2 linked regions of the Homo sapiens genome follow. The protein of the gene in region 2 purifies or fractionates together with the protein of the main gene of each other region. This does not show direct contact. Each region holds a gene or a part of one and is shown on either strand. Other genes may lie near its edges.

Region 1 (3,500 bases), on a different chromosome or scaffold from region 2:
ATCCAGAATATACAAGGAAATCAAACAACTCAACAATAAAAAAAATCTCATAAAATATGGGCAAAGGGCATGGCCAAAATGTACATAAAGAAATGCTCAACTTTACTAATCAACAGAGAAATGCAAACCAAAACCAAAATGAGATATCATCTCACCTCAGTCAGAATTGCTATTATTAAAAAGACAAAAAAAAAATTAACAGACGTTGGCAAGGATGTGGAGAAAAAGGAACTCTTATACACTGTTTTTGGGAGTATAAATATAGCCACTATGGAAAACAGCATGGAGATTTCTGAAAAAACCAAAAGTAGCACTACCATAAGATCCAAAAATCTCACTAATTGGCATTTATCCAAAGCACGAGAAATCAGTATGTCAAAGGGATACCTGCACTCTCATGTTTATTATTGCATTATTCACAATAGACAAGGTATGGAATCGATCTAAGTGTCCATCAACAGATAAATGGATAAAGAAAGTGTGGTATACATACACAATGAAATAGTATTCAGCCATAAAAGAGAATGAAATCCTGTCATTTGGAACAACATGGATGGAACTGGAGTTGTTATGTCAAGTGAAATAAGCCAGGCACAAAAAGACAAAAATAGCATGTTCTCACTTATATGTGGGAGTTAAAAAAGTTGATCACATGAAGATAGAGAATGGAAAGAGAGATAACAGAGACTGGGGAGGGTGATTGGGAGGAGAAGGGAAGATGAAGAGAAGTGTGTTAAAAAGTACACACATAAATAAGATAGAAGGAATAAATTCAATGTTTGATAGAAGAGCAGGGTGACTATAGTTACAAAAATGTATTGTATTTGGGTTATGGACACCGTAGATACCTTGACTTTATCACTATGCATTACATACACATAATAGAATTTCATATGTATCCCATAATTTGTACTGATAAAAAAATTTAAAAGAAAGTGAACCATCAGGCCAGGCGCAGTGGCTCACGCCTGTAATCCCAGCACTTTGGGAGGCCGAGGCCGGTGGATCACAAGGTCAGGAGATTGAGACCATCCTGGCTAACACGGTGAAACCTCATCTCTACTAAAATTACAAAAAAAAAAAAAAAAAATTAGCCGGGCGTGGTGGCGGGCATCTGTAGTCCCAGCTACTCGGGAGGCTGAGGCAGGAGAATGGCGTGAACCCGAGACCCGAGAGGCGGAGCTTGCAGTGAGCCAACATGTGCCACTGCCCTCCAGCCTGGGCGACAGAGCGAGACTCCGGTCTCAAAAAAAAAAAAAAAAAAAAAAAAAAGAAGGTGAACCATCAGAGAGACATTCTCCTGCAGGTTTTAGAGGAAGAGAACAATCAGCCATGTTGCGAAATGCCTATACAGAGGGGCAGCCTCTAGTAATTGAATGCCAACCCAACCCCAACAAACAGCTACCCAATAACCTAAGACCTCAGTCATATAGCTGCAAGGAACTGAATTCTGCCAAAAACTTGAATGAAGATGGAAGAGTCACCTGGGCCCCATATGATAACTGTGTTCCCGACCAACACCTTGAATGCCACTTTTTGATACCCTGAGCAGAGGACCTTAGCAGGCTATGCCCAGACAACTGACCAATGGAAGCTGTGAGATAATAAATAGCTGTTGTTTTAAGATACTAAGTTTGTGGTAATTTGTTACACAGCAATAGAAAATTAATACAGCATGCTTCTTGTTTCTAGACCTATCCTGGGTAGACAGAGATGTGCGGTTGTCATTCAAGTGTAGGCAGTACAGTTCTGGCCTCTGGTTAACTGCTTGAAGTCTATGTCCTGGCCACTAGCCCTCGTGTTGGGTATGTTCTGTCATTTCGTCAGTGGTGTTAAGGACCAGTCATGACCAATCCTTATGAATTACATAGTGTTAGTATCCCATTCCCTCACTCCCATCTCACTATATGTTCCTACTCTATTTCTAGAGCACAGAGAACTTACCTTCTTGTGTTATGTATGTTATGCAGCTTTTAAAAATTATTTGAAATATTACACATATCATCTTTTTGTATTTGAAGTTGGAGGGGTATGTTTATGCATGTGTGTCATTTGACATGTAGGCCCAGAAATCCAAAAGTACTTAAATTGGTAAGAATACTAAATCTGCAATAAACAAGCCAGTAAAATAGATTATCTTCAGCAAAATAGTATCTTGTAAATGCTGTACCTTGGAGGAGCCAGGGTTTGTTCTAAAAACTCCTCAATTTTAATGAAGTCTGTTTTCAACTCCTTGTTATACACCAGGAACGGAGGATTGGTACCTGGGGCTAAGTCCTTTAGTTCTTCAGGCTTTCTATGATTATTAAAAATAAGCAGAGTTAGGTCTCTAGATAAAGTACACATTAAATAAACACCAATATTTTATTGGTATCTACCAATCTCAATTCCTAGAATTTAACATGTCCTGATTTCTCTTACCTGGTCATGTCAACAGTTGTCACATTAAATTTAACTCCTTTAAGCCAGAGGATCATGAAAAGGCGTTGGCAAAAGGGACAGTTTCCAATACTCTCTCCATCACTTCCAGCCTATTAAGATAAAGAGAGACCTCAGTTCATTTGTTTGTTCAATAAGTATGTATTTAGTTCCTAATAGGAAATGAGCCAGTTGCTAGAGACAAACATGGACATTCTTAATCTCATGTACTCCATCATCTATGGACAGAGAGATATAGGGAAGCAAATAATCTCATTATATGTAAAGTTACAACTGTGATGGGTACATAATAATAATAATAAATTTTATATATTATCAGAATTTATATAATTTTCCTATTGATAGACATTTAAGATATTCCAAAATTATTACTACTCTAAGCACTTCAGAAACAAACATTTCTGGGCATATAGCTTCTTCCACTTCTGAGATTATATCTTTAAGGTTAATCTTTAAAATGAAAATGGTCAGTAAAATGTATGCACATTTCCCATTTTGATAGATCTTACCAAATTTCCTTTCTTTTTTTTTTATTATTATACTTTAAGTTTTAGGGTACATGTGCACATTGTGCAGGTTAGTTACATATGTATACATGTGCCATGCTGGTGCGCTGCACCCACTAACTCGTCATCTAGCATTAGGTATATCTCCTGATGTTATCCCTCCCCCCTCCCCCCACCCCACAACAGTCCCCAGAGTGTGATATTCCCCTTCCTGTGTCCATGTGATCTCATTGTTCAATTCCCACCTATGAGTGAGAATATGCGGTGTTTGGTTTTTTGTTCTTGCGATAGTTTACTGAGAATGATGATTTCCAATTTCATCCATGTCCCTACAAAGGACATGAACTCCTCATTTTCTATGGCTGCATAGTATTCCATGGTGTATATATGCCACATTTTCTGAATCCAGTCTATCATTGTTGGACATTTGGGTTGGTTCCAAGTCTTTGCTATTGTGAATAATGCCGCAATAAACATACGTGTGCATGTGTCTTTATAGCAGCATGATTTATAGTTCTTTGGGTATATACCCAGTAATGGGATGGCTGGGTCAAA
Region 2 (4,065 bases):
GAACATGATAAAAATGGCCCTACCATTACAGGAAATAAATCCAGAGAAGAAAAGTTATTGACCCAATCTTGCCGACCAAGATGGGCTTACAGAGCCCTGGGGAATATCCTGGATTTAGGCAACTGGAAATTGCCCTTGGTATGTGAAGAGCCCCAGGCAGGGAGTCATAGATGGCCTTCAGCCTCATCAATGTCACTGAAGAAGTGTATGGACAGGGCAGCTTACTAGATTGTACAAGGTTGTGCAGGGTTTCCTCAACAGGAAAATGAGAGCCCCGGACTAGGTTCACCTCTTATGTGACACATATCTTGAGTGTTTTTAAAATTTAATAATGTTTACTTAACAAATATTTACAGAGCACTTACTATACACCAATTTTAAGCACACACAAATGTGTTAAAGGCTTTACAAATACTAACTTCTTTAATCCTTATAATAACTTTATGAAGATATTAGTACCATTATTATCTCCATTTTACAAATGAGCCATGGCATCCAGCCTCCCATTTTAGATCTAATGAAACATAATACTCCAACGTAGACAGTGTCCACACCCACTACTTAGAAAATGCTGGCCAAGGAGGGTATGGCTAAGTTAACTTGGTCATCAGCATAAACCAGGTCTAGCACGTCAATGTTGTGGTTTTCCTTTCAAAATCTAAAAATGGTTTGAAATACAGAGCTTTAGAGGTGAAAAAGACCTTCAAAAGAATTTAGAGCAATGGTTTTTGAACTTTTTTTCCTTTAGAATCCCTTCCCCCAATTTTCTCCAGAATCCCAATATGTAAAACAAATGTAAACAGAGCTAGTCAGGAGCCCTGTCTGCCTGGCCTCCTCCTTGCCCAAAGCTGATTCCTGAGGCACCTCCAGCACTCCAGAGAATAGCCTGAAAGCCTCTAACTTAGTCCAACGATCTCATCTGACAGATGAAAAAACTGGACCCATGAATGTTTTATACTGTTTTGATTTAAAACAAATTCGCACAGGAACTGATCACGGGTCTCAGATCTCAAGTTTTCTCCCTCTCCTTAGGCCAGTGATCATTAAACTACACTAAAATGTCTCTTCTTTCTCTGGCCAATGTCTCCAGTTTTGGAACAGGACAAACTAAGAATAATCCAGACTACACACAAGTTTCCATAACTGTCCTTTCTAAAATACTGTATTTTTAAAGAGGAAAATATACAATGGTTTTCGTGTAACTTGGCATGATTTAAAGATATATTCACTTTAAGACACCTTTACATTAGAATCTAGAATTTTAAAATGGAGAAGCCTCTAACTGCAGATGTGAAAAATCAACTGTCATAGAATAAGCTTTCAGCTAACCAAAGCAAAGGAGGGCTGTAGGAGACACCTGATTCACACTTGAATCCCACCCCAGTGTCCAGGTATACCTGTTACAGCATTTTGTTTGGAGCCAGGTTTTGCATGGATGGCTATGGTGACGCATCCTTTAGGATCAACTGCCACAGGACCTAAGGGAGGAAGTGGTCTCTCTGGTTCCTTGCTCTGGCTTTTACCCTAAAATGACAACCACACAACTTTACAGGTTACAAAATATTTTCCCACACATTTAATTTGATTCTTCCACTACCCCCTTTCACCCTTAACAGACAAACTAGGCTCATCAGTGGTGTCCAGGGACTTCTGGCCACCTAGAAAGCTTTTCCCACAACCTTCAAGGCTCTACTCAATTTTCCCACGAAGGGTTCCCATCAACCCAACAGTGTTTTTTCCCCCCTTGCAAGAAAACCTAACTCTGGCTTCTAAACCTTAATGCTTGCTCCTCCCTCTGCTTTGTATTTCCAATTCCTTGGGGGCAGGGATCATTTATTATTCATCATTGTATCTCATGCAGTCGGAGCTAATAAATGTTGGTGAAAGTGTGTATGTCTGCATGTTGCGGGAAAGGGAGGAAAAAAAAATAGTGCTTGATATTTAAAGGCCTGTTATGGGACAGGGGCTGTGCTAGGAACTTTCGTTCAACAAATATGTAGGCAATGGATATGTAAAGATGAAAAGGTACATGGTCCTTGCTCTCAAGGAGCTCGGACTGCTGCGAGGGAGAAAGAACATACAAAATTATAATACACTGTGCTAAGTGCACCGATGAGATAGGCACAGAACATTACCCCACAGGCAAATCAGCATTGGGGCACTGGAGAATGCTGCCAGCAGGAGGCAGTGCTTGAGCTGAGTCTGAGAAACGGACTGGGGTTGGCCAAACAAAGATGGTGGAAATGGGAGTGCTGTATTCTTGACAGAAGGGGTGCGATCAGCCAAAGCAAGGGAGGAGAAAGCAGAATACAGCCTCCTGGGGAAACGCAGGTCATGCCGCTGCGGGAACATGAATTGCTGGACTGGGAGTGCGGGTAGGAGGCCAAAGGTCAGCACACGCAGCCCAAGGAGAGCTCGGCTGCCGCCGGGCCCAGCGCTCAGAAATCACCAGGTGGACGGCAGCGCAGCCTACTGAGGCGGGGCGACGGCAGCAGGCCGCAGCTCTGGGGGTGGCGGCGGCTGTCCTGAGCCCCGGAACTGAGAGACGGCAAGCCGCTGGCAGTGCCTCCACTCACTCCCGGGCCCCGCTTCTCCCGCGCTCTTCAACAAGTACCCCTGAGGCCCACCCCTCTGCCGCCACGGGACCTGCTACTGGCCTTGGTCGTCGCACCAGCCTTCTTAGGCATCTCGGCGCAAAGAAGCCGAGCGGAGCCCCGAGTATTGGGTGTTGCCCGAAGGTGCCTCAGCCCGCTGCGGAGCCGCAGCATCCCCGCCTGGGAAGGCGCCGGAAGAGCCCTCTGCGCTTGCGCAGGTAGCCGGCAGGAGCGGCCCCACCGCCCGGCGCATCCGCTCTGGCCAGAGGGCGACACCTTAAGGCCGGCGGGAGCGAGTCTCGTGGCCGCAGAACATGCGCGAGTCTCTTTTGTTCTGGAACGGGCCGAGCCCCAGGAAGTGGAGCTGCGGAGCTGAGGCCTCACCGTGTCTTGGCCCACCCTGCTCAGCTGATAGGAAGGTGTGTCACCTCTTTCCTAATCGGGGAAAGAAAGGTATTGTCACTTCTCAGAATTGGAGAGCGCGGCAAGGAGTGCACAGGGCCAGGTGTCTTCTCGCTCCCACAGCCAAGCAGCAGATGCAGAGTCCCACGCGCTGCCTGTGGCCATCAAGTCGATATAGAGCCTCGTGGCGGCTTGGCCCTTGTGAATCTTCCACGTATCGATGGCGCACCTACCTTGTGCCAGGCGCAGCGGATCCCACAATGTAAAAGAAGAGGAAATACACTGCGACATGTGATATGGAGAGACATGAAACAAATCAGCAGAGGCAAGATCATGGAGTCACTGAAGGCTTTCAAGCAAGGGATTATTAGCAGCCCAATTTGCTGGGTTTTAGAAAGACACCGGCTGCACTGTGGCCGACAGAGGAAAAGCCAGAGACAGGGAGATCCGCCCCCTAAATGGGAGAGGGTGGCCTGAACTAGAGTAACCGCAGGGAGGGTGGAGCGCTGATCATTTCAAGGATCTTCAGGAACTGAAATGATCAGAACTTGGGAATGACTGCATGTGCGAATAAGGGGGAAAAGTCAAGGAAATGCCCAGGTTTGGGGCCCAAGGAACAGGTTTGGGAGGCCGAGGTGAGGAGTTCAGCTTTGGACATAATGAGTTTGAGATGCCCACAGGACATCCAAATACAAATGTTAAAGGGGTAACTGAATATATGTGACTGGAGTTTGCGAAATCAAGGCTGGTGATAGAGATTCTGGAATCTTCTGAAAGCAGATGGCAATTGAAGCTATGGAAATGGATGAGAGAGTGTGTAAAGAGCACGAGGGCCCAGGTTAGAACAGCAAGGGCAGGTAGAGAAGTCACCAAAGGACACTGACCAGGTAGGAGTACGGTGTAACGGCAGCTAAAGAAGGGCGCTTCAAGAGGGAACATCAACAGTGATGAACACTCTGGAGAGAACATGTCACATGTAACGACTGAGAAGTGGCCACAAGATTTAGAAATCAGGGTGGTGGTGGTGACCCGGGCTACAGCAGTTTTAGTGGAGAGAAGGAAATGGAGA

What was found. Proteins that work in one complex are often made in the same cells at the same time.
Region 1: the proteins of C15orf40 (region 2) and CLIC2 purify together in Homo sapiens (affinity purification with mass spectrometry; one large-scale study listed by BioGRID and IntAct). This does not show direct contact.

What each region holds. Positions count from the first base shown.
Region 1 is NC_000023.11:155,296,615-155,300,114, forward strand, and holds part of CLIC2 (chloride intracellular channel protein 2), read right to left. Parts: intron 2,532-3,500; coding exon 2,422-2,531; intron 2,297-2,421; coding exon 2,171-2,296; intron 1-2,170. UniProt on the Homo sapiens protein: In the soluble state, catalyzes glutaredoxin-like thiol disulfide exchange reactions with reduced glutathione as electron donor. Displays weak glutathione peroxidase activity. Can insert into membranes and form chloride ion channels.
Region 2 is NC_000015.10:83,008,840-83,012,904, forward strand, and holds the start of C15orf40 (UPF0235 protein C15orf40), read right to left. Parts: upstream 2,801-4,065; 5' UTR 2,769-2,800; coding exon 2,658-2,768; exon of another isoform or gene 2,647-2,657; intron 1,525-2,646; coding exon 1,398-1,524; intron 1-1,397.